7 linked regions of the Homo sapiens genome follow. The protein of the gene in region 1 interacts with the protein of each later gene in a pairwise test. Each region holds a gene or a part of one and is shown in the gene's direction. Other genes may lie near its edges.

Region 1 (3,500 bases):
TCTTCTCCATGGGAGAGGCAGTGCCCTATGCACACTATGGTAAGAATGCAGTAACCGACCAGCTGATCACAGGTCCTAAGCCAGGGCCCATTGCCCGAGGGCCTGGGACCTGCTGACTACACAGCCTAGCAGGGAGAGGCTATCCCCAAGGCTCACAGAAAGCCAGGAAGGGTGGGTGGTGCGGGGGTCGGAGGGGAATGGGGCTGCAGACTTCTGTGCGCCCCTCTCCCAGAGCACCTGGGCACGCCTTTCGCCCAGTTCCTACTGAACATCGTCGAGGATGGGCTGCCCTTGGACACCACAGAGCAGCTGCCGGACCTCTGCGTGAACCTGCTTCTGGCTCTCAACCTGCACCTGCCAGGTGGGGTGGGGCCTGGCTGGGCGGTGGCTGAGCACATGGTGGCTCTCAGGCTCAGCACCCTGTCTATACCCATGTCCTTCCTTAGCTGCTGACCAGAATGTCATCATGGCTGCCCTGAGCAAACACGCCAATGTCAAGATCTTCTCCGAGAAGCTGTTGTTGCTCCTGAACAGAGGGGGTGAGGGCCCGGGAATCTGCGCGGGTACCACTTCCATGCCCTGTGACTCCATGACCCCTGCAATGACTCCCGTAACCCCCTGGGGTGACTCTGGGATCCCCACAAGGTCCACCCTGACCGCTATGACCCCTGCCTCCTAGATGACCCTGTGCGCATCTTCAAACATGAGCCACAGCCACCACACTCTGTCCTCAAGTTCCTGCAGGACGTGTTTGGCAGCCCGGCCACAGCTGCCATCTTCTACCACACAGACATGATGGCTCTCATTGACATCACTGTGCGGCACATCGCAGACCTGTCACCAGGAGACAAGGTGCCTGGAGGTGGCTGCAGCAGCGGGGGTCACTGTGTGGAAACTGAAACAAAATGGTGGGGGGCATGACATTGAGTGGAGATGAGGGGGCAAGGCCACTGCTGGAGCCAGGTAAGTGTAGGAGGCCATGATAGGTGCACCAAGACCCAAAGGAGCCAGCCATGAGGTGATCTGGAGGTGGTGGGGCTGGAGGAGGCTGGAGAGGAGGGAGTGGAGGGAGATGAGGCATGGAGGATGGAGTTTACACAAAGCCTCGGAGGCTGCTGCAAGAGGTTGTGATCTCAGGACCGGGGAATGTGATGTGATTAACATCCCACATGGAATCAACTGCATGCCAGCAGAGTGGAAGCCAGCCAGGGAGGAAGCAGCCTCAGTGGTCCAGGTGGCATGGATGGGGTGGGGATGGGATAGGTCGTGGCAGTGGCAGTGGCGAGAAGAGGCCAGCTGTGGAGTGTTTAGTAAGTGGATCTGGCAGGGCTTGCCACTTGATTTATCTTGAGCAGCTAGATGGATGAAGTGCTGATTTTTGAAGTTGGGGAGGCTGGGAGAACTTCTTGGGGGAAAATAGAGAGTCGTGTTTTGAATGTGTCAAGAATGAGGAGATATCTGCTAGACACCCAGGTACCGAGGGCATCAGGGAGGCAGTGGGGAATGAGTTGAGACTAGAGAGACATTTCGGAGTGGTCTATGCAGAGATACGATGGGAAGCCTGTGACAATGTGATTGCCTCAGAAATGAGATAGATAGGCAGGTCAGCGGGAAGTTCGGGCTGCAGCCCTGGGCACAGCTGAAACAACTAGGGAGAAACCCAGGAAGAGAACCAAGAAAGCAGGAGCCCAAAGCCACATGTTTAGAGGAAGACGATCAGCCATCTCTATACCGTTAGGAGCCTGAGCGAGACTGGGGTTGGCCATTGGATTCACCACACAGAGGTCAGTGGTGCCTGACAAGCAGTGTCAGTGGGGTGCAAGGAGGAGAGTCTGAATGAAAGTTTGAGAGAGCTTGAAGTTATTGGGGAGTAGAAATGAGGGGAGGGTTGGAAGCAGTAAATGGAGACAACTCTTGTGAATTTTCTATTAAGGGGAAGAGAAAAATGGAAGGGAGGTTGCTGGAGAGAGATGACATGGGGATAGGGAGAGTGTTTTTTTGGGGGTTTTTTGTTGTTGTTGTTTGTTTGTTTGTTTGTCTCCCACTGTTGCCAAGGCTGGAGTGTAGTGGCACGATCGTGGCTCACTGTAACCTCCGCCTCCTGGTTTCAAGTGATTCTCCTGCCTCAGCCTCCCAAGTTGCTGGGATTACAGTCACCCACTACCACACCCAGCTAATTTTTATATTTTAGCAGAGACAGGGTTTCGCCATGTTGGCCAGGCTGGTCTTGAACTCCTGACCTCATGCAATCCACCTGCCTCAGCCTCCCAAAGTGTTGGGATTACAGGTGTGAGCCACCGTGCCTGGCCAGGGAGAGTGTTTTGAAGATGGGGGATGTTGGCCAGGCGCGGTGGCTCATGCTTGTAATCCCAGCACTTTGGGAGGCTGAGGTGGGTGGATCACTTGAGGTCAGGAATTCGAGACCAGCCTGGTCAAAGTGGTCTCTACTAAAAATACAAAATACGAAAAATACAAAAATTAGCTGGGTATGGTGGTGGGAGCCTGTAATCCCACCTACTTGGGAGGCTGAGGCAGGAGAATTGCTTGAACCCGGGAGGTGGAGGTTGCTGTGAGCCAAGATCACACCACTGCACTCCAGCTTGGGTGACAGATGGGGGATGTTGGCCAGGTGCAGTGGCTCACGCCTATAATCCCAGCACTTTGGGAGGCCGAAGTGGGAGGATCACTTGAGTCCATGAGTTCAAGATCAGCCTGGGCAACATAGTGAGACCTCTGTATAACCTGATGGACCACAGTAGAAAATAAAATTAGCTGGGCATGGTGGTATGCACCTGTAATTCCAACTACTTTGGAGGCTGAAGTGGGAAGATTACTTGAGCCCAGGAGGTCAAGGCTGCATTGAGCCATGATTGTGTCATTGCACTCCAGCCTGGGCAACAAAGCCAGACCTTGTCTCTTTAAAAAACAAAAACAAAAATGGTACGGATGATGGTGCATGTTCTGAGCCGGAGGGAATGATCCAGCAAGCACAGAGAGATGGATGATGTGTTGGAGATGGTGAGCCACCACAGGAGTCAAGTGGATGGGGCAGGAGGGGAGAGTTCAGGTCCAGGCCCACATGGACAGGAGCTAGGGCTGCTCATTCTGGTAGGGACAGGTGAGATGTGGGTACTGAGGGGAAAGACGGGTTTCTGCAAGATTACTTCTGTATTCTCTATGAAGCACAAGGCCAGCTGACAAGGTAGGTAGGTTTCAAAGACAGAGAAGGTGGACATTATTACTACTCTAAGGGAGAGTGACACAGCAGAGAAAAGCAGTGGGAGGCTCAGGCAGTGCTGTGTGTCCGTTTGAGGTTTGCGGTGGTGAATGACATTCAGGCCTGCACATGGCTCTGCATTTGTCTATAGCTTAGACGCTGGTGTTTGATGTGCAGGCACCTCAGTATGACTCCCAGGGCTGGGACTTAGCAGGGTGTGCTGCCTAAAGGAGGTTTTGGTATTATTTCTCTAATTAAAGGTAAAAAGAGAAATGAGGGATGT
Region 2 (4,041 bases), on another chromosome or scaffold:
GGACGCGGTGGCTCACGCCCGTAATCCCAGCACATTGGGAGGCCGAGGCCGGTGGATCACCTGAGATCGGGAGTTCAAGACCAGCCTGGCCAACATGGCGAAAACCCCGTCTCTACTAAAAATACAAAAATTAGCTGGGCATGGTGGCGGGCGCCTGTAATCCAAGCTACTCAGGAGGCTGAGGCAGGAGAATCGCTTGAACCTGGGAGGCGGAGGTTGCAGTGAGCCAAGATCCTGCCACTGCACTACAGCCTGGGTGACAAAGCAAGACTCTGTCTCAAAAAAAAAAAAAAAAACAAAAAAAAACAATTAATGCCCTCGGGTAAACTATGACGTTTGTGCTAACTTTTCAGATGTCCCAAGATTTGGGTTGTTTTACAAGGATAACGAAGTTCATGATGAGGTTAAGCAATCACTGAAGCTAGTGCTAGAAATTTTTTTTAATTTAATTTTTTAGAAAGAGGGGTCTTGCAGAATTTTTTATTTAATTTTTTAGAAAGAGGAGTCTCGCTATGTTGCTCAGGTTGGTCTCCAACTACTGGGCTCAAGTGATCCTCACGAGTAGCTAGGGCTACAGGCACAGGACACTATGCCAGGCTTAGTGCTACAATATTCTGTCTATTTTACTTTAAAATATTCTAAGTATGCTCACTTTGGAAGGCATCAACATCCAGAAATGCATTCCTACATCAAGACTCTCAAGAAACGGGAATTACTGTAAGGGCATACCCTTGAGCAACCATCACACTGCACTGAACTCTTGAGAATATTCTGGAATATCCTGGAAGCATCTCTGCAGGGCAGAGAAGTGAACTGCCACAGAAGGAGCAGCTTTGGGGAGAAGAAATACAGTTTGCCTCTTACAGTATTTTTCTACACCGAGAGCTACATTCCTCCCGAGTTTTAAATTTGTGGACCGTTGAATATCACTCCGCCTTTCATAAAGTTACAAATACCTTCCGTCGGTGGCGGGAACAGAGTTTGGAAAATTACATGCCTAAGACTTCAGATAAGCTAAATGACATACATGCAATAGCATCCCATGAAGAATTTATTCAACCCAATCCATTGCATCTAATTACCCAAAGCACAGAAACTCTCCAAACTGTGCACCCCCCAAAAGGAGGGAAAATGCAAGGTTCCTGCTGCAGTTCCCGGGACACACTGCGAGCCGCTTTGTTACAAGTGTATCCAATGTCCCCAGAACGAGGGACTTGTGGGGCGCGGCTCATCCCAGCGCCACTTGCTCTGCAGCTCCCAGAGGTGGTGGTTGTGTTACGAAGGCTGACCCTGCCAATGGCCGACAAAATGGTGCGCACCCCCAAGTGCTCGAGATGCAGGAACCATGGCTTCCTGGTGCCCGTCAAGGGACACGCGGGCAAATGCCGCTGGAAGCAGTGCCTCTGCGAGAAGTGCTACCTGATCTCCGAGCGCCAGAAGATCATGGCCGCGCAGAAGGTGCTCAAGACGCAGGCCGCCGAGGAGGAGCAGGAGGCGGCCCTGTGTGCGCAGGGGCCCAAGCAGGCCTCCGGGGCTGCGGCCGCCGCCCCCGCCCCCGTCCCCGTCCCGGCCGCGAGCCTCCGCCCGCTGTCCCCGGGGACTCCCTCCGGAGACGCCGACCCGGGACCCGAGGGCCGCGCGGCCGCTTGCTTCTTCGAGCAGCCCCCGCGGGGCCGGAACCCCGGCCCGAGAGCCCTCCAGCCGGTTCTGGGCGGCCGCAGCCACGTGGAGCCGAGCGAGCGAGCCGCCGTGGCGATGCCCAGCCTTGCGGGACCCCCTTTTGGGGCGGAGGCCGCAGGCAGTGGCTACCCTGGCCCCCTAGACCTGCGCAGGCCGATGCGGACCGTGCCCGGCCCACTGTTCACCGACTTTGGTAAGTCGTGGCCTTGGTCCCGCGGTCGACTCCCGGAGCTGGCAGCCCAGGCCAGCCCGGATGGGGAGCTGGCATAGGGGTTCGGGGTGGAGAGAAGTTTTTCCACGGGTAACGGACCTTCCGCTTTGAGAAACCCTTCTTCGAACAGGGATTTGGATTGGGTAACTTTTCGCAAAAAGGAAACGAGAAACAGAAAGGAATGGGCGGTTCAGAGGGCTTTTAACATTTAGCTGTAGTTTGTGCCATTCCGGCATGCAAGAACAAAATGGCGTCCAGTCGACTTAGCAGTGCTTCCTCCTCCGGGGGAGGCTTCGAGGAGCCGAGTCCTACTGCTCTTGCGCACCTCTTCCCGCCATTTCCTTGGGCTGGAGGCTCCTCCTCCAGAATAACAGAATTTTCCTGCCGGCACGTTAGCGCAAGGACGCCTGCGCACTCTTCCCTCCCGGTTCGCGGTCGGGAGGCTCCTCCCCTCAGCTCCGCCCTGGCCCAGTGCGCCTGCGCACCTCTTCCCTCCGTTTCCCCACGTGCAGGTGAGGGGAGCCTGCTTCTTTACTCCACACACGAGAACAGTTGGTCAGTAAAGATGTTGCCTTTCTTTTCTCCCTTCACCTTGTACATAAATTACATTGTTCCCTGTGCCTTGGAGCTTTTGGTATTGAAGTAGTTTCAAGTCACATGTACATTTGAAGCTTTAGAAGCCCCGGGGTTTGGTGCGGACGCGTTTTCCTGGTGTCTCCCCCGTGGTGGTGTGGTGGGACGGGCTCAGGCCGAGGCGGGGGCCCGGGTCACGCTGGACAAGCTCCTGCCCTCTGTGTGCCAGGGCACTGGTCCGGAGGCTCCCGCAGGCTCGTCCCGCCCCCCTGACTTTCCAGGAAAATCTAGGTCCCCAGGGAACGTCCCATCTGACAGGGTCACAGGCCTGAAACTGCAGATCTAGGAGAAGCCACCTTTCTTTTTTCCATCTCAACAGACAAGCAGGGCTGAGCCGAACCATGAGCCAGGCATTCGTGATGGAGGACGCGGGTCACATTTCTTGCCCTCAAGGACCTTGTCCTTGTGGGAGGGACAGGGTTGATCAAAGAGTCACACAAATCAGTGTCCAGGGCTTGAGCCATGGCCGGGTTCACTGTGACCCGGAGGAGGAGGAGGAGCTCGGCACTGAGGCCTCAGAGAGGCAGAGTGCGGGCTGACGGTGTGTGGGGCAGCGGGGAGGTCTGGAGGCGGCCCCGGCCCACAGCGGGCTTGATGGCCGTGCTGAGGACTTTCCAAGAGCAGTGGGGCTGGCTGGAGGATGGAGATGCAGTGAGGGCCCAGCGGAAGGAAGTGCGGGGTGGGCTTTCTGTGCTTGGACGGCAGCGCTGATGACCCCGCCGCCCTGGGCCGCCCTGCGGATGCTTTTCCCAGCGGTGTCTAACACTTCCCTCCTTGCTTGCGTTCTTTAGTGCGCCCTCTGAACATCAACCCGGACCGTGCACTGGGCCCTGAGTACCCTGGTGGCTCCAGCATGCACCCCTACTGCCCGTTCCCGCTGGGCTACCTGGACGCCCCTCCTGGCGTCCCCCTGCAGCAGGGCTTCCGGCATGTGTCCCGCAGCCAGTACCAAGGCGGAGGCTTGGTGAGTCCCACCCCTCACTTCTTGCCAGCTTCCTCCACCCAGTCTGCCCCTGCTGCCTTGATGGATCCTCAGTCCCAGGAAGCCAGCTGTCATAAACTGTGCCCACGCCATGCCAGCCCCCGAGTGCTGGTGGAGGACTAGGCACTGCCCAGGCACAGTGTGTGTGTCTCTGGGAGCACACGTGTGGACCAGTCTGCACCACTCGGCTTGGGCTATGGCCTGTGCTTTTCAGGGCAGTGGGCTGAAAGGCTCTGAGCGTTCAGGATGACCCCTTCCTTGACTGATGCTGATGCTAGAAGGGCCCTTCATTTTGCTGGACTCCAGAAAGGGCATATCACCTTCCTGGGACCACAAAATTTAGGGCAGAGCCAGGACCAGAGGTAGGCTCCCTGCCCACAGGTATAGCACACTTGAGACTGCAGAGGGCTTTCAGGAGGAGGTGGCATTTGAGCGGAGTCATGAAAAATACGGAAACCTTCCCCCAAACACTTGACACCTTAGGAAATACCTGTTGAAAGAATGAAATTTAATCCTTTTATAAGATTAATAAAGG
Region 3 (3,500 bases), on another chromosome or scaffold:
GCATGGAGTTCAGAAGGCCAGGGCAGCTGTTGGAGAAACAAGTACAGACAGATGGACTGTACTAGCCTCCTGGCCTAGGGATGGGATTGTGGGTACACAGATGAATATGGCATCTCTAATGTGCTCCCTACTCCAGCGGAACTTTCACCCTGATAGAAAGAGTGATACTAGGAAACCCCATCTTGGTGGAGGGGAGGGAGGCACTGAATACTGTGTGCACACTGGATACTTCCCAAGGAGATCTTCCTTGTTCAGATGAAGCAAGGGGAACCGAGAGACCCAGCCTTTGCAGGAAGCATACACGGGGGAGGGGAGTTGGGAGCTAACTCCAAGAGAGTCACCAGATCTGACCCAGTGGCCAGCTAGCCCTTGGGAGGAGGCCAGCTTGGAGGAGGTCTTGGTTTTTGGGGCAATCTCTTTGGTCAAGACTCCAAGGAAATGGTATAGCACATACTTGGCTTCCAGAGAGCAGCTTCCAGGAAAACCTCAGCACAGGCAGGGAAGTGTAGAGGTCTCTGGTAGGCCCAAGGACTCTGGCCACAAGGGTTCTTCCTACTCGGGGTGGTGCAGCTCTTCAAAGGATGGGCAGAGGGAAACACCTACCTCCAGAAAAGGAATAGGCCTTACAGCCAAGGCCCACAGCTGGTTATTAGATAAAATCAACTAGAAAAATCTTTCCTGAGGGTTTCTTCTGCTATGACGAGGGACAGGAATTAAGAAGTCTTTTTTTTTTTTTTTTTTTTTTTTTGAGACAGAGTCTCGCACTGTTGCTCAGGCTGGAGTGCAGTTGTATTTTGAGTAGAGGTGAGGTTTCGCCGTGTTAGCCAGCATGGTCTCGATCTCCTCACCTTGTGATCCACCCGCCTCGGCCTCCCAAAGTGCTGGGATTACAGGCGTGAGCCACTGTGCCCGGCCGAGAAGTCTTTTTAACATCATTTGAGAGATATGGTAGAGGAAGAGACCTGAGACCAGAGATAGGAGCTGTGGGAGCATGTTCTGCCAGCTCCAAGCTAGGCCTGAGATTGCCTCCATAGACCTGGGAACCCCACATGTGGGAATATTTCCACCAGCTTTCTAGGGTACATCAAGGCTGAGAAATAGCTCCTGGGGAAGGTGGATAGAGAATCCTAGATCTCCATCCTGGGGAAAATTTGGAGAGAAAGACATGGTACCAGGACAAGCCCAGTGGCTGGACAGGTCAGTGGTTGGAGGGTTTAATAGGGTCCAGGAATTCCTGTGGCCTGTACTTTCCTTGAATGGAGAGAAGAAATTAGGGACCTGGGGAATGTTGTAAGGCATCTACAAAACTTCCCAGAGCTTTTGGGAAATAATTCTGGGGGACAATGGGATTGGAATGCAAACAAAATAGAGCTTTCTTTGAACTAGGTGGTATTCTTAGAATCCAGGATCTGGCTGGATAATCTGGACCTTTTCTCTTTCCTAAAAAGAGCCTTTTCCTTTCTTTCTGGGTTACTAACAGAATATGACACTGTTTGCTGGCACAACTAGAATGGCTGCTGAGGGTCACCGTTAAACTTGATTTTCTTCACTCTACCCTTTGTTCTCCCATTTTGGGTTCATGCAGTTGTGCTGCAGGAGTTGATAAGGAGTGTCTGTGGGAGAGAGTGGGCTGTGCTATGGATAATTAAGGAATGATGTTTTATCTATTGCCATGTAACAAGCCACTCCAAGATTTAGTGTTTCAAAGCAACAATTTCTTATTATCTGGCATGGTTTTGTGGATTGACGGGGCTCAGCTGGGTGGTTCTTCTGCTGGTCTGTCTCAGTGTCTCTCATGCAGTTGCAATCAGATGGTGGCTGGGGCAGAGTCTTGGAGGCTCAACTAGACTGCAGCCTCCAAAATGTCATCTTCACTCACCTGTCTGGTGCTTTGATGTTCTTCCATGTGGCGCCTTTCTCCATGTAGTGTTTCATTCTCCAGGGCCTTTCCACATGGCCTTTCTCTTCAGGAGTTATGTGGTAGCTGGCTTCTAAGAATGCAAAGGCATACATTGCCAGGCCCTCTTAAGGTCTGGGCCCAGAACTGGCATATCGTTTCTGCCACATTCTATTGGGAAAGTAGTCACAGGTCTGTCCAGAGTCAATTTGGAAGGGAGGTGGGTACAGGTGCGGTTATGAGGGAGGCGTGGTTCATCGAGGGCCATATTGCAGACTAGCTCCCTCAGAAGGCTAGGGAGAACATACATGGGACAGATGATCCATTAGTGAGGAGGTAGTGCTGGGCCAGACTGATGAGAGAGAGAACCCCAAGAGGGAGGTAAAATGCAGAGACTTGGCAGTTCTACCTCTATCGCAATCCTTGGAGGGTTTTTTTTTTTTTTTTTTGACTCTAGAGGTTTCTTTCTAAAGGCCACATGATAAACGATGCAGCTGGAATTTGAAATCAGATTTGCCTGGCTCTGGGCCTGTCCACTAAGCCATTGACATACCAGTCCAGCTTTTTTTAGGCCAGGGCTGTTCAGTGCTGATGATTCATAGACATAGTGGATCTGAGCTCCCTGACATCTAATAGATGTTTGCTATATTACACAAATTGATTTTAATACAGAGCCTTTTCCTTTCTTTCTGCAACATGAAAATCACCCAAAATGAGTGTGACCTTGTCCCTCATGCTAGTATTTTTCAGTCAGTCATCAACTCTGTTCACAAAAGGTGCAATTAGGGCTTGTGGCTCGGAGGGGTGGGTAATTGTGACTGAAAAGACCAGCGTGCTTTCTGACATCTTCACTAAATCACCCTCCTCCTTGGTATGGGGGCTGTGGCCAGTATTTGTAGCTCCTGGTGTTAGAAAATGACCTTTGGCCCACCACTCTGTCAGCCTCAGCTCAGAAGGAACCACCTCTTTTGTCACACTTGTGTGCTGGACTGGTCAGTGGCTACCCCACAGGACTTTAAAGCAATGAGCAAGGCTTATGGATTGAGTGGATTCAGGGCATTTTCACAAAAGTTCCCTTAGCAACAAGTCGGCGGGAATCCCTGACATCTGTTCACCGCTCTGTGGATCCCTGATGTCTGTTACCACCTAGAAACATGAATGAGAGGCTGACCTTCACGTACTCTTCTCAGTCTGGAAAAGCCCAGCTTTTTTCTGATGGTGTGGTAGACCTTGTCTGTGAACACGGATACTGATCCTCACTTCGCTGGTGAAAGAAAATGTTTTTTGGTAAACCAGGAAACCTTGTGTACATGTAAGGTATTTTGACTATTATCAGGCCAGCCCAGGGGACTGTGCTGTCTTATTACTCACAGCAGCAAGGCGACACATGACAGGCTTTCTAACAAAATGTCAGGAGGGATTCCTCTGTACTTAAATGCAAAATTAGTATATTTCTCTGTCTCCCTGCAATGGCGAGGCTTCTGGGGTGGTATTTATGCCTATGGCGAGAAGAAGAAGTGGCGGCTGGCAGATCTCTCTGGCTTTTCCTTGGCTGACCAGAACATGTTGTGACGTTGTGAAAGTTTAGTTGCAGTAGGTATAT
Region 4 (3,500 bases), on another chromosome or scaffold:
TCCCTTCTTGCGTCCTTTCTTTCTAAATTCAGTTCCACATTCATTTTTTTTCTTTTTTTCTTTTTTTCTTTTTTTTTTGAGACGGAGTCTCACTCTGTCGCCCAGGTTGGAGTGCAGTGGCGCGATCTTGGCTCACTGCAAGCTCCGCCTCCCAGGTTCACGCCATTCTCCTGCCTCAGCCTCCCAAATAGCTGGGACTACAGGAGCCTGCCACCACGCCCGGCTAATTTTTTTGTATTTTTAGTAGAGACAGGGTTTCACTGTGTTAGCCAAGATGGTCTCGATCTCCTTACCTCATGATCCACCCACCTCGACTTCCCAAAGTGCTGGGATTACAGGCGTGAGCCACCGCAGTTGGTCTATTTTTTCTTTTTGAGATGGAGTCTTGCTCTGTCTCCCAGGCTGGAGTACAGTGGTGTGATTCTGGCTCACTGCAACCTCTGCCTCCCAGTTTTAAGCAATTCTCCTGCCTCAGCCTCCCAAGTAGCTGGGATTACAGGCACCCACCATCACATCTGGCTAATTTTTGTATTTTTAGTAGAGACGGGGTTTCACCATGTTGGCCAGGCTGGTCTGGAACTCCTGGCCTCAAGTGATCTGCTGGCTACAGTCTCCCAGAGTGCTGGGATTACAGGTGTGAGCCATGGTGCCCAGCGCATTCCACATTCATTTATTTCCCAAGCATCTCCCTCTGCTGAGTTATGCCAAGAGCCCAGTGATGATCAAGGGATCCCACTGGGAAGACAGACCCATCACTGCAAGGGATAAAGGCCGGGATGGGGAGGCCCTGGCTGAAGGGTTGCAGTTGGGTTTGGGCCCAGACAGAGGGATCAGGGCCAGGACAGGAGGGTGGGTGGAGGCAGGCAGAGGGGTCAGGCCCAGGGCTGGAGACAGGAATGACTGAGATATCTCTGGGCCCTGACCTCACTGGGCTCACAGACATGGCATCAGAGAGTGACAGCCCAGAAATGGTCAGGTCTGTGATAGGGAGGGCACAGGCAGAGGGGCAGGGGCTGGGATATGGAGTATACAGGAGGTTTGGGAGCCTACAGGAAGGGCTTGACTAGTCATGGGTCAGGAAGGAAGTGCTTCCTGGAGTAGGAGGAAGTGTGTAAGGTGAGTCAGAAAGTGAGGATAAGGAAAGGCAAAGAACACACGATAGTGAATGAATTCCCTAGAGGTTGCTTAACACAATCATTAAAAATAAATAACATACAATTAAATTGAGTTTATCAATATTATTATTATTATTATTATTATTATTATTATTATTATTATTTTTGAGGCAGGGTCTGGCTCTGTCACCCAGGCTGGAGTGTGGTGGTGCAATCACAGCCTACTGTATTCTTGACTTCCTGGGTTCAAGTGATCCTCCCACCTCAGTCTCCTGAGTAGCTGGGACTACAGGCACGCACCACCAGCCCCAGCTAGTTTTTAAATTTTTTGTAAAGACAGAGGGGAGGAATTTTCCTATGTTGTCCAGGCTGGTCTTGAACTCCTGACCTCAGGTGATCCACCCACCTCAGCCTCCCAAAGTCCTGAGATTACAGGCGTGAGCCACAGCCCCCGGCTTATAAAGCTACGTTTATTTGTTTGTTTGTTTTTTGTTTTTTGTTTTTTTTTTAGATGGAGTCTTGCTCTGTGGCCCAGGTTGGAGTGCAGTGGCATGATCTCAGCTCACTGCACCCTCTGCCTCCCAGGTTTAAGGAATTCTTCCTCAGCCTCCCAAGTAGCTGTGATTACAGGCACCTGCCACCACGCCCGGCTATATAAAGCTACTTTTAAAAGGCCTTCAGAATAGCTGGCTGAGAATAGAAGTCAAGGCAGAATGGAGTTAATTACAAGGAGGAGAAAAGAGAAGGTAACAGAGAGAAAGAGAGAGAGTAAAAGTTAAAGGTGTTAGACTTGGGAGGGTGAGGCGAGCGGATCACCTGAGGTCGGGAGTTTGAGACCAGCCTGACCAACATGGAGAAACCCCATCTCTATTAAAAATACAAAATTAGCTGGGCGTGGTGGCGCATGCTTGTAATCCCAGCTACACCGGAGGCTGAGGCAGGAGAATCACTTGAACCCAGGAGGCAGAGGTTGAGGTGAGCAGAGATCGTGCCACTGCACGGCACCCTGGGCAACAAGAGCGAAATTCCATCTCAAATAAATAAATAAAAGTGTTTGGCAGAAGGAAGCCCCTGCGCTGAGGTGTGGCCAAGACAGAGAGAGAGGCAGAGACACAGGGACAGAGGCAGAAACTGAGATCAAGATCAGCGAGTGAGGGCCCCGGGACAGCAGGAAGACAGCAAGGGGAAGGGCACAGAGAACAAAATGGACCAAGCATTGTCCTAAAGCTTTGGGGTGACTCACTGGGCATCAGCGATCCCAGAACATGGGGTGCCCCTCTCCGTGAATCTGTGATCGGGGTGCCACCCTTTGATGCCAGAGTTCTCTGGCATAGTGGTGGTGGTGGTGGGCCACCCCAGGGCAGGCACTCTCGACATCTTTCAGTCGCAAATCTGGGGACCCTCTCATAACCGCTTTCTCTTTCTGTGCCCACAGGGACCCCCGATGATGCCACCTTACCCTGTAAGTACTTGCTGATAGGTGAGGGTCTTCCTCCCTAGTGGGGTCCCTCAGCCCCTCTCACCCTTCCTGCCTTCTGTCCATCGTTCAGGGTCCCGGACATTGCCATCAACAGCTGAACAGCCTGCCCGTGAGTGGGAGGGCTGGGAGGGCCCCGGGTGAGGAGTGGGAATGGTGAGAATTGGGGTAGGGGGAGCTAAGAGGGGTTGCAGCCCAAGGTGTACTAACCCAGCACCTAGAGAAACGCCGGAGTCTAATGGGTGTGTCATAGATATCTGTCGACTCTTGGAGAATAATATCGCTTCTTCCTCACTTCACAGACCATGGAAGGACCCCCAACCTTCAACCCGGTATGGCTTGGGGAAACAGAGATGGATGGTGGGGAGGGGGCACGGATCTCCAGGGAATCTGAGACAGCCAGAAAGGGAGTGGGCTGAGGGTTTTGGGGTGGGAGGTAGGGGAAGGGTAGATAGAGTTCGTGGTCAGGTTTAGGGAGCAGAAGGAATTGGGGATGTTTTCCAGGAGGAGTGGGACCTCTCAGAAAATTTGTTCTTGGGCTGGACATGGTGGCTCACGCCTGTAATCCCAGCACTTTGGGATGCCAAGGCGGACAGATCACGAGGTCAGGAGATCGATCGAGACCATCCTGGCCAGCATAGTGAAACTCTGTCTCTACTAAAAATACAAAAATTAGCTGGGCATGGTGGCGCGCGCCTGTAATCCCAGCTACTCAGGAAGCTGAGGCAGGAGAATCGCTTGAACCAGGGAGTCGGAGGTTGCAGTGAGCCGGGATCGTGCCACAGTACTCCAACCTGGTGACAGAACGAGACTCCATCTCAAAAAAAAAAAAAAAAAAAAAAAAAGAAAAAGAAAAGAAAAAGAAAATTTATTCTTGGCCAGACACGGTGGCTCATGCCTATAATCCC
Region 5 (3,500 bases), on another chromosome or scaffold:
AGAAAAGGTACAGTAAAAATATGGTATGAAAAATTAAAAACCACACCTGTTTAGTGCACTTAACATGAATGGAGCTTTCAGGACTAAAAGTTGCCCTGTGGGAGTTAGTGAATGAATGGCAGATTAATGTGAATGTGATGGTCTACACGCTCAGGCTACACTGTATTTATTAAAAACCAGTAACAGGCTGAGCGGGGTGGCTCACGCCTGTAATCCTAGCACTTTGGGAGGCCCAGGCTGGTGGGTTGCCTGAGCTCAGGCGTTTGAGACCAGCCTGGGCAACATGGTGAAACCCATCTACTAAAATACAAAAAAAAAAAAAAAAATTAGCCGGGCATGGTGGCATGCGCCTGTGGTCCCAGCTACTCGGGAGGCTGAGGCAGGAGAATTGCTTGAACCCAGGAGGCAGAGGTTGCAGTGAGCCAAGATCATACCACTGCACTCCAGCCTCACCACACATGTGAGTAATGTGTTTCACAACGGCATTGTGCTATGATGTTACAACAGCTATGACATCACAAAGCAGTAGGAATTTTTCAGCTCCAGTATAATATGGGACCACAGCTGCACACGGTCCGTTGTTGACTAAAATGTTATATGGTGCATGACTGTGTTTAAATATTCCTATATTTTTATATTGTTTATTTTAAAGTTCTATGGCCAGGTGCAGTGACTCACACTTGTAATCCTAGAACTTTGGGAGGTTGAGGCAGAAGGATCCCTTGAGGCCAGGAGTTGAAGACCAACCTGGGCAACATGACAAGACCCCCGTCTCTACAAAAAATTTTTTTAAAAAATTAGTTGGGTGTGGTGCCATATGCCTGTAGTCACAGCTATTCGAGAGGCTGAGGCAGGAGGATTGCTTGAGCCCAAGAGTTGAGGTTGCAGTCAACTATGATCATGCCACTGCACTCCAGCTTAAACAACAGAGCAAAACCCTATTTCAAAAAAAAAAAAAAAAAAAAAAGGCCGGACGCAGCAGCTCACACCCGTAATCCCAGTACTTTGGGTGGCCGAGGCAGGCAGATCACCTGAGGAGTTCAAGACCAGCATAGTCCAACATGGTGAAACCTCATCTCTACTAAAATTACAGAAATTAGCCAGGCATGGTGATGGGCGCCTGTAATCCCAGCTACTTGGGAGGCTGAGGCAGGAGAATCGCTTGAACCCGGGAATGGGAGGTTGCAGTGAGCTGAGATCGCACCACTGCACTCTAGCCTGGGAAACAGAGTGAGACTCTGTCTCAAAAAAAAAAAAAAAGTTTGGTATATATCTTTATTCAGACCTTGCATACTCTAACATATATGTGGGTATATGTATTTTTTAACCCCAAAATGGGACTATTCATATGGCTTTTTGGTTGGGTTTTGTTTGTTTGTTTTTGTTTTTTTGTGACAGAGTCTTGTACTCTTTCACCCAGGCTGGAGTGCAGTAGCGCAATCTCAGCTCACTGCAACCTCCGCCTCCTGGGTTCAAGGCATTCTCCTGCTCATCCTTCCGAGTAGCTGAGATCACAGGCACATGCCACCACGCCAGGCTAATTTTTGTATTTTTAGTAGAGACAGGGTTTCACTGTGTTGGCCAGGCTGGTCTCGAACTCCTGACATCAAGTGATCCTCCCACCTCAGCCTCTCAAAGTGCTGGCATTACAAAGTCGTGATCCACCACACCCAACCTAGTCATACTGTTCTATAACTTGATTTTTTATATGACAGTGTATGTAAAACTTCCTTTCATGTTAGTTTCTGTAGATTTGTCTCACTCTTCATAATGACTGTATCATATTCCACTTAATGGCCGTGCTATATTTTATTTTAGTGTACTCGGTACTGGTCATTTGGGTGTTTCTAGTTTTTTACTCTTACAAACAATCCTGCTGTGAATATTTTTGGACAGTTTTGTGGTAACTAAAATTAAAACTTTTTTTTTTTTTTTTTTGAGACGGAGTTTCGCCCTTGTAGCCCAGGCTGGAGTCCATTGGCGCAATCTCGGCTCACTGCAACCTCTGCCTCCCAGGTTCAAGCAGTTCTCCTGCCTCAGCCTCCCAAATAGCTGGGATTACAGGCATGCGCCACCACGTCCAGCTAATTCTGTATTTTTACTAGAGACGGGGTTTCACCATATTGGTCAGGCTGGTCTCCAACTCTTGACCCAAAGTGATCCACCTGCCTCAGCCTCCCAAAGTGTTCGGATTACAGGCCTTAGCCACTGTGCCCGGCCTAAAACATCTTTATTTCAGTAAGGTCAGGAGTTCTAAGTTCCCAAACCCATTTTAAGTGTCCTTTGCTCCATAGATCTTCAGATCCCTACCTGTTGGCTATAACATCTCTAAGCAAGTTCTTGATCAGTATCTCACTCTGCTGGCAGATGATCCAGTAAGTCTGTTTTTGCTTTTTTTCTTTTTTCTTTAGCCTGTACTGTTGATAATTTATTTCTGCACTGATACCTAGTGTCATCCTCCTGCAGAGTTATTCTCTACCTAGCCAGCCCAGACAATTTCTCCACATCATTTGATAGGAGGGCTACCTGCTGCAGACTTTTGGTCAGATTTGTTCCATTGGAAACAGAATCACTGGACTTTCCGTTCAGTTAACACTCTCTCTTTTTCTTAATAGCTAGAGTTTGTTGGAAAGTCTGGCGACAGTGGTGGAGGAATGTATGTCATCAGTATCCTTACCAGTTATTTCCTTAGAGTCAGGCAGCCTGACCTATAAATCAGAATGGTGCCTTAGGAAAGAAAGATTTGGTAATGTTTATTATACTAAATAAATTAGAAAATTGAAGTAATTGTTAAATAAATTTTTCTATGAATTTTCAGTGAACTGCATTGATGATGAAGTAAAAAGAGGCCAGGCATGGTGGACTTTGGGAGGCTGAGGCAGGTGAATTGCATGAACCCAGGAGTTCAAGATCAGCTAAGCAACATGGCAAAACCCCATCTCTACCAAAAATACAAAAACTAGCCAGCTGTAACGATGCATGCTTGTAGTCCAGCTCCTCAGGAGGCTGAGGTGGGAGGATCGCTAGAGCCCAGGAGACAGACGTTGCAGTAAGCTGAGATCATGCCACTGTACTCCAACCTGGGTGACCCTGTCTCAAAAAAGAAAAGGAAAAAGGACTTTTAATCAACCAAATTTTAGTTAAGCAAAACCCTTACTTAAACACTTGTATTAAAGTTTTGGAATATTTATGTACCATGACTGAAACCATAAATTATAACATGAAAAACAAAATAGCATTTAAAATTTAATTATAAATTAGAAACTTAGGAATAAAACTCAGATCACAATAACTAGGCCAAAACATTACTGAGTGACCTTAATTCTCTACATAAAGACCTCCATAAGGCATTAGCATCCCTAGCCACAGCCACTCTGGAGTCCGTCGTACAGGAGAGGTAAGGGGGACACTGGTTGGGTTTGGGATCACATACTTCCTATCCCCAGTGAAGTAATTTGATCATTATGTAAGCCACCAATATAACCACACCTTGGCATACT
Region 6 (3,500 bases), on another chromosome or scaffold:
GCCAACATGGGAAAACCCCATCTCTACTAAAAATACAAAAATTAGCCGAGCATGGCGGTGCACGCCTGTAGTCCCAGCTACTCAGGAGCCTGAGGCAGGAGAATCACTTGAATGTGGGAGGCGGAGGTTGCAGAGCCCAGATTGAGCCACTGCACTCCAGCATGGGTAACAGAGCAAGATTCTGTCTCAAAAAAAAAAAAAAAAGTTATAGGCCGGGCGCGGTGGCTCATGCCTGTAATCCCAGCACTTTGGGAGGCCAAGGTGGGTGGATCACGATGTCAGGAGATTGAGACCACCCTGGCCTCTCACGTGAGGCCTCTCACCCACCCTCTCACGGTCTTTAGTAGAGACCGTCTCAAAAAAAAAAAAAAATTATAAAATAAAATCAAATAAATAAAAAATAAAAGCTCTTGGTCCCCAGGGGCTGGGTCTGAGAGCAGATGGGACTGGGGAGACAGCTAGGTCAGGACAGAGATTCCCAAGTAGGATACCAGGAATCTTAGGTTCTAGTACTGGGTCTGCTACTGCTGCTGTGAGACTTTGGGCAGGTACATCTCTTTCAGGGCCTCAGTTTACCCATCAGTGGGATGGGAACAATAATCCCTGCCTTCCTCCTAGGAGGGCCATAGCAGCTCAGACAGCATATAAAGCTGTGATTTCTGTGCTCATCTCAGAAAAAAATATGTCTAGAGAGGGCCCCAGGCCATAAGCTGGGTGGGTCACAACCCGAGGTGGAGGGGGAGCCATTTGCCAGGTGTATAAGGAGTGGAGTTGCCTGCACTAGAGGGTACAGCCTCCATCAGTGGGGCAGACACACTTTCTCCTTTTCCCAGCAATCACAGAAGTCTTCCTGCAGGAGGCAGTTCAGGAGCTATCCAGGCCAGCTAGGCAGATGCTGAGGAGAGGCACTACCCAAACAGAAGACAGAGGGTTTGCTTGGGGAGTTGAGAGGGGCTGGAGAGCACCTCTTGGGGGACAGCTCTGGGGTGACCGTGCTGAACCCACCCCAGGTCATGTGCTACGACTATGACAATGACGGGGGCCATGACTTCATCGGCGAGTTCCAGACCTCAGTGTCACAGATGTGTGAGGCTCGAGACAGCGTCCCGGTGAGATGGGCACGTGTACTGTAACCCCAAGACCTCAGCAGGGCTGGGGGAAGGGGCACCGGGTCTTGGGTCAGGCAGCCTGGGGCTGAGATCCCCCTTCTGGCTGCATGACCTTGAGCAAGGCATTCAATCTAAGACTCAGTTTCTCCATCTGTCAATGGGGGCAGAGGATTTGGGTGGGGATTGAATGAGATGATGCAGGCGAAGTGCCCAGCATATAGTGAGCAGTCAGGAGCTATCCATTTAAGTCATTCCGTGATGTTGGGCCCTCAGCTGGACAGTTTGGGGGTGCGTTATCTGGGGAGGAGGGAGGCAGATGCTGATCCTGCTACCATTTTTGGGTGTGGACATCCTGGGAGGCTCCCTGGAGGAAGCATGCTGCCCCCATTGTCAAGCCTGTGGAAGGGATTCTAGGGCCAAGGAGGAGGATCTGTTTCCAAAGAAGCCCCGAGGTGAGTGTCTCTTTCTTTTGCGTTGCCCAGCTGGAGTTCGAGTGCATCAACCCCAAGAAGCAGAGGAAGAAGAAGAACTATAAAAACTCGGGCATCATCATCCTGCGATCCTGCAAGGTGAACCAGCGTGGGCAAGCACGAGCCAGGGGCCAGGTTTCAGGCCACACAGAAGGGACAGACAGAGCACTGGATCTGGAGCCAGCGAGGCCTGTGTTCAAATCCCGGCTCTGCCACATCCTGGCCCTATGGCCTTCTGAGCTTCACCTCACCAGGCCTCAGTCTCCTCATCTGTGGAATGGAGATATTAACGAGGCAGAGCATGTCCAGGGTTACTCTTCTCTCACATTCCTGTGTGGAGGCCAGGGAAGGCACGAGCTGACCTTCCAGGGCCTGTCCTGGTGGGAGAATTGTCATTGCGAGTTGCTGCCGCCCACGGTGGGCATGCAAGGGGCAGAGGACATTGGGTGGGGACACCCTGTCCTCTCTGGCATCAGCGTCACTGTGACTCCCATGGTACAGCCGGGGCCACTGAGGCCCAGAAAGGCAATGAAGTTCATGTCAGCAGTGGCCAGGCTGTGGGTGGGGGCCAGAAGACCTGGTGGGCAAATAACTGCTGGATCTGGCAGAACATTAAGGAAGGCAGCCTGGGGCAGGAGAGCAAGAGACCTGGGCTCAGGGCCTGACAGCTCAGGAGTCTGGCCGCTGCTCTCCACCAGCAGGTGGATCCCAGACTCCCACCTTATTTGGAGCCTCGTCTGGCTAGGGTTTACACGAACATTCAGTGGTGTCACGACAAAAAAGCACTCCGTTAAAGGTCAAGATGTCAGGTTGCAGCCTTGTGATGGATGGTCCTTGTTTCTGAAGTTTCCATCATTCACATCACTTTTCACAATTTCTGGCACCTGCCTTACTTATTTTTTTGAATCAGTCTTTCTTCCCTGTATTATTGTTTTTTGTTTTTGTTTTTGAGACAGAGTCTCACTGTGTTGCCCAGGCTGGAGTGCAGTGGCGTGATCTCAGCTCACTGCAACCTCCGCCTTCCAGGTTCAAGGGATTCTCCTGCCTCAGCCTCCCAAATAGCTGGGATTACAGGTGCATGCCACTACGCCTGGCTAATTTTTGTGTTTTTAGTAGAGATGGGGTTTCATTATGTCGACCAGGCTGGTCTTGAACTCCTGACCTCAAGTGATTTGCCTGCCTTGGCCTCCCAAACTGCTAGGATTACAGGAATGAGCCACTATACCTGGCCTGTTTCTTTTCTCTTTTTTTTTTTTTTTAACTTAAATACATTTATTTAGAAAGAGATTATTAGAACTCTACCAAAATTAAAAGATCTGCCTTCTTTGCCAAAAAGAGACAAAGACCATCAAAACAACTTCTAGAGGAAGGCCTTGAGCTGGAGGCCTGCTCTTTCTCTTTGTTAAAAAGGTAGATTAATAAGGGCCAGGAGAAGGTAAGTACCTAACAGTGACAAATTGAGACACTCTGTGTCAGGTAACTGACACTGGGCCCTGGCACCCTGCCTGGAACCAGCATGTGTCTGTGTATCTGTGGGGTGTGGGGGTCTCTGTGAGTCCCCCACCCATTAGGAACCATTGCACTGAAGGCTTTGTTATAGAGAGATTTGGGTTTTGTTGTAATTAGATCAGGCCCATCAGCTTTTTTTGACCTCCTTGTCCCTACTGAGGTTGCAGGACATAGAGCAACAACTCCCCCATGGGGAGTGTGACCAAGTCAAGGGGACCCACTGACTCATCCGCTTTCTTCCAGATAAACCGAGACTACTCCTTCCTTGACTACATCCTGGGAGGCTGCCAGCTCATGTTCACCGTAAGGCTCTCCCCGCTGGCTCCCTCTGCACCCCCATCCCAGTGAGGGTCCTCCCTGAAGACTTGGGCCACTAGTGCAGCCAGAGGGACTTAGGGTAGACTTCAGGAAG
Region 7 (3,500 bases), on another chromosome or scaffold:
TAACAACAAATTGCCTCACATATTTTATTTTATTTATTTATTTTTTGAGATGGATTCTTGCTCTGTCACCTAGGCTGGAGTGCAGTAGCGAGATTTCAGCTTGCTGCAACCTCCACCTCCCGGGTTCAAGAGATTCTCCTGCCTAAGCCTCCCGAGTAGCTGGGATTACAGGCACCCCCCACCACGCCTGACTAATTCTTGTATTTTTAGTAGAGATGGGGTTTTGCCATGTTGGCCAGGCTGGTCTCGAACTCCTGACCTCAGGTGATCTGCCCTCCTCAGCCTCCCAAAGTGTTAGGATTACAGGTGTGAACTACCACGCCTGGCCTGCCTCACAATTTTTTTTTTTTTTTTTTTTTTTTTAGATGGAGTTTTGCTCTTGTTGCCCAGGCTGGAGTGCAATGGCGGGATCTCGGCTCACCGCAACTTCCGTCTCCCCGGTTCAAACAATTCTCCTGCTTCAGCCTCCTGAGTAGCTGGGATTGCAGGCATGCCCCACCACGCCCAGCTAATTTTGTATTTTTAGTAGAGACGGGGTTTCTCCATATTGGTCAGGCTGGTCTCCAACTCCCGACCTCAGGTGATCGCCCACCTCTGCCTCCCAAAGTGCTGGGATTAAGGCATGAGCCACTGCGCCCAGCCAGATTGATGGATTGATTGATTTTGAGATGGAGTTTCCCTCTTGTTGCCCAGGCTGGAGTGCAATGGTGCAATCTCAACTCACCTCAACCTCTGCCTCCCAGGTTCAAGCGACTCTCCTGCCTCAGCCTCTGGAGTAGCTGGGATTACAGGCATGCGCCACCATGCCCGGCTAATTTTGTATTTTTAGTAGAGACGGGGTTTCTCCATATTGGTCAGGCTGGTCGCGTTGGTCTGCCCGCCTCGGCCTCCCGAAGTGCTGGGATTACAGGCATGAGCAACCGTGCCCGGCGCCTCACAGATTTTAAAAGCGTAACTCTAAACTCATTGTTAGTCTAAAGTTATTGGGTTTTGATTTGCTTACATAATAGGGTTTAAGGAAAGTCAGCAGTAAGTTTGGCTTGGTCATATTAATAATAGGAAATGAGCCTGAGTAACATGGTGAAACTTCATCTCTACCAAAGAAAAATTCAAAAATTAGCCAGGTGTGGTGGCACATGCCTGTAGCCCCAGCTACTTGGGAGGCTGAGGTGGGAAGATCTCTCGAGCCTGGGAAGCAAAGGCTGCAGTGAGCCGAGATTGCACCACTGCAGTCCAGCCTGGGCAACAGAATGAGACCCTGTCTCAAAAAAATAATAATAATAGGAAGTGATTTTAAGGTTTTGGTCTCAATACTTAAATATTTAAATATTGTTGAAAACCAGTAAAGCCTGGATCATATTGCATCTCAAACTAAAAACTGGAGTTCTAGATTTAAACACACACACACAAGCTTTTTTATTTGCAGCTGAGACTACAGGCATGTACCACTATGCCCAGCTGTTTTTTTGAGATATTTGTTTGTTTGTTCATTTGTTTGTTTTTGAGATGGAGTTTTACTCCGTCCCCAGGCTACAGTGCAGTGGCTCGACCTCAGCTCACTGCAACCTCCGCCTCCTGGGTTCAACTGATTCTCCTGCCTCAGCCCGACCCAGGTGTGAGCCACCATGCCCAGCCTCAGCTGTTTTTATTTTTTTATAGAAATGGGGTCTTGCTATGTTGTCCAGGCTGGTCTTGAACTCCTGGGCTCAAGTGATCCTCCCACCTTGGCCTCCAGAAGTGTTGGGATTACAGGTATGAGCCACTGTGCCTGGCTACAAAAATTTTTTCTTAGGATGAGGACATTTATACTATTGTTTTATTTTTGGTTGTTGTTGTTTGGGTTTTTTTTTTTTTGAGACGGAGTCTTGCTCTGTTGCCCAGGCTGGAGTGCAGTCGCACGATCTCGGCTCACTGCAGCCTCCACCTCCTGGGTTCAAGCAATTCTCCTGCCACAGTCTCCCGAGTAGCTGGGATTACAGGGGTGCACCACCATGCCCAGCTAATTTTTGTTTTTCAGTAGAGATGGGGTTTTGCCATGTTGCCCAGGCTGGTTTTGAACTCCTGACCTCAGGTGATCCACCTGCCTCTGCCTCCCAAAGTGCTGGGATTACAGGCATGAGCCACCACGGCTGGCAGAATCACGTCTCATCTCTAACTCCTCTCCTTCCTCCTCCCTCTCCCCGATTCTGCGGCAGATACACTAGGCTCCTCAGAGTTCCCGAAACACACTGGCACACCCTTCCTCAGAGTCCCAGGGCTCCCTGGATTTCTGCCTTAAACTATTTTCCCAGAAATCTGTGTGGCTTGATTCTTTACTTCTTTCAGCTCCCCGCTGAGACGTCACCTGGCCATTATTTAAAATAGTGGTGTTTATTTCTAGCTACATAATATGCTCAAAGGCAGTAAGTGGAACTGGGATTCCAAACCCTGATCTTCATCTTCTTAGCATTCCATGTTTCCCTGTGGAACTCTTCTTTAAAGCTTATTTAAGAATTCTAGCCGAGCAGGGTGGCTCATGTCTGTAATCCCAGCACTTTGGGAGGCTGAGGTGAGAGGATTGCTTGAGCCCAAGAGTTCGAGACCAACCTGGGCAACATAGTGAGACTTGATCTCTACAAAAAAATATTTAAAACATTTCCAGGCATGGTGGCATGTGCCTGTAGTCCCAGCTATTCGAGAGGCTGAGATAGGAGAATCACTTGAGCCTGAAAGGTTGAGGCTACAGTGAGCCATGATTGCACCACTGCACTTCAGCCTGGGTGACAGAATGAGATCCTGTCTCAAAAAAAGAAAAAAATTATAAATACATAGTAGTATATAGCTGGGTGTGGTGATGCAAGCCTGTAATTCCAGTTACTCAGGAGACTGAGGCAAGAGAATTGCTTGAACCCGGGAGTGGAGGTTGCAGTGAGCTGAAATCGTGCCACTGCTCTCCCCAACCTGGGCGACAGAGTGAGACTGTGTCTCGGAAAAAAAAAAAGAAAAAAAAAAGTATATACGTGTGTGTGTGTGTGTGTGTGTGTGTATATATATATATAGAGAGAGAGAGAGAGAGAGGTATATACATGAATCCAGTGGTTTTTGAGTTTTGTTTTCATTCTTGTTGAGAAACTGTTCAAATGCTCTCTTAATTCAAAGTGTAAATACATAAGGCAGAAAAAGGCAGAGTTATGACTGAGGCTGGGTTGGGGGGCCTAAGCCCTGTCCCTTTGGTTTTCTTTTTCTTTCTTTTTTTTTGAGATGGAGTCTCGCTCTGTTGCTCAGGCTGGAGTGCAGTGGTGTGATCTTGGCTCACTGCAACCTCCGCCTCCTGGGTTCAAGCAATTCTCCTACTTCAGCCTCCAAAGTAGCTGGGATTACAGGTATGTGCCACCATGCCCGGCTAATTTTGTATTTTTAGTAGAGATGGGGTTTCTACATGTTGATCAGGCTGGTCTCAAACTCCTGACCTCAGGTGATCCGCCCTCCTCAGCCTCCCAAAAGTGCTGGGATTACAGGTG

The links.
Region 2: the proteins of NCKIPSD (region 1) and DMRTB1 interact in a two-hybrid assay, tested with the Homo sapiens proteins (one large-scale study listed by BioGRID).
Region 3: the proteins of NCKIPSD (region 1) and GAS7 interact in binary tests that used the Homo sapiens proteins (3 or more experiments, as listed by UniProt).
Region 4: the proteins of NCKIPSD (region 1) and LGALS4 interact in binary tests that used the Homo sapiens proteins (3 or more experiments, as listed by UniProt).
Region 5: the proteins of NCKIPSD (region 1) and POLR3C interact in binary tests that used the Homo sapiens proteins (3 or more experiments, as listed by UniProt).
Region 6: the proteins of NCKIPSD (region 1) and CPNE2 interact in binary tests that used the Homo sapiens proteins (3 or more experiments, as listed by UniProt).
Region 7: the proteins of NCKIPSD (region 1) and RBP7 interact in binary tests that used the Homo sapiens proteins (3 or more experiments, as listed by UniProt).

What each region holds. Positions count from the first base shown.
Region 1 is NC_000003.12:48,675,916-48,679,415, reverse strand, and holds part of NCKIPSD (NCK-interacting protein with SH3 domain), read left to right. Parts: coding exon 1-39; intron 40-232; coding exon 233-361; intron 362-446; coding exon 447-539; intron 540-679; coding exon 680-852; intron 853-3,500. UniProt on the Homo sapiens protein: Has an important role in stress fiber formation induced by active diaphanous protein homolog 1 (DRF1). Induces microspike formation, in vivo. In vitro, stimulates N-WASP-induced ARP2/3 complex activation in the absence of CDC42.
Region 2 is NC_000001.11:53,458,158-53,462,198, forward strand, and holds the start of DMRTB1 (doublesex- and mab-3-related transcription factor B1), read left to right. Parts: upstream 1-1,241; 5' UTR 1,242-1,296; coding exon 1,297-1,873; intron 1,874-3,315; coding exon 3,316-3,488; intron 3,489-4,041.
Region 3 is NC_000017.11:10,192,107-10,195,606, reverse strand, and holds part of GAS7 (growth arrest-specific protein 7), read left to right. Parts: intron 1-3,500. UniProt on the Homo sapiens protein: May play a role in promoting maturation and morphological differentiation of cerebellar neurons.
Region 4 is NC_000019.10:38,802,946-38,806,445, reverse strand, and holds part of LGALS4 (galectin-4), read left to right. Parts: intron 1-2,550; coding exon 2,551-2,577; intron 2,578-2,665; coding exon 2,666-2,704; intron 2,705-2,894; coding exon 2,895-2,924; intron 2,925-3,500. UniProt on the Homo sapiens protein: Galectin that binds lactose and a related range of sugars. May be involved in the assembly of adherens junctions.
Region 5 is NC_000001.11:145,834,200-145,837,699, forward strand, and holds part of POLR3C (DNA-directed RNA polymerase III subunit RPC3), read left to right. Parts: intron 1-2,294; coding exon 2,295-2,375; intron 2,376-2,615; coding exon 2,616-2,667; intron 2,668-2,818; coding exon of another isoform or gene 2,819-2,821; exon of another isoform or gene 2,822-3,292; intron 3,293-3,336; coding exon 3,337-3,397; intron 3,398-3,500. UniProt on the Homo sapiens protein: DNA-dependent RNA polymerase catalyzes the transcription of DNA into RNA using the four ribonucleoside triphosphates as substrates.
Region 6 is NC_000016.10:57,120,083-57,123,582, forward strand, and holds part of CPNE2 (copine-2), read left to right. Parts: intron 1-1,010; coding exon 1,011-1,109; intron 1,110-1,591; coding exon 1,592-1,678; intron 1,679-3,331; coding exon 3,332-3,391; intron 3,392-3,500.
Region 7 is NC_000001.11:10,003,728-10,007,227, forward strand, and holds part of RBP7 (retinoid-binding protein 7), read left to right. Parts: intron 1-365; exon of another isoform or gene 366-580; intron 581-3,500. UniProt on the Homo sapiens protein: Intracellular transport of retinol.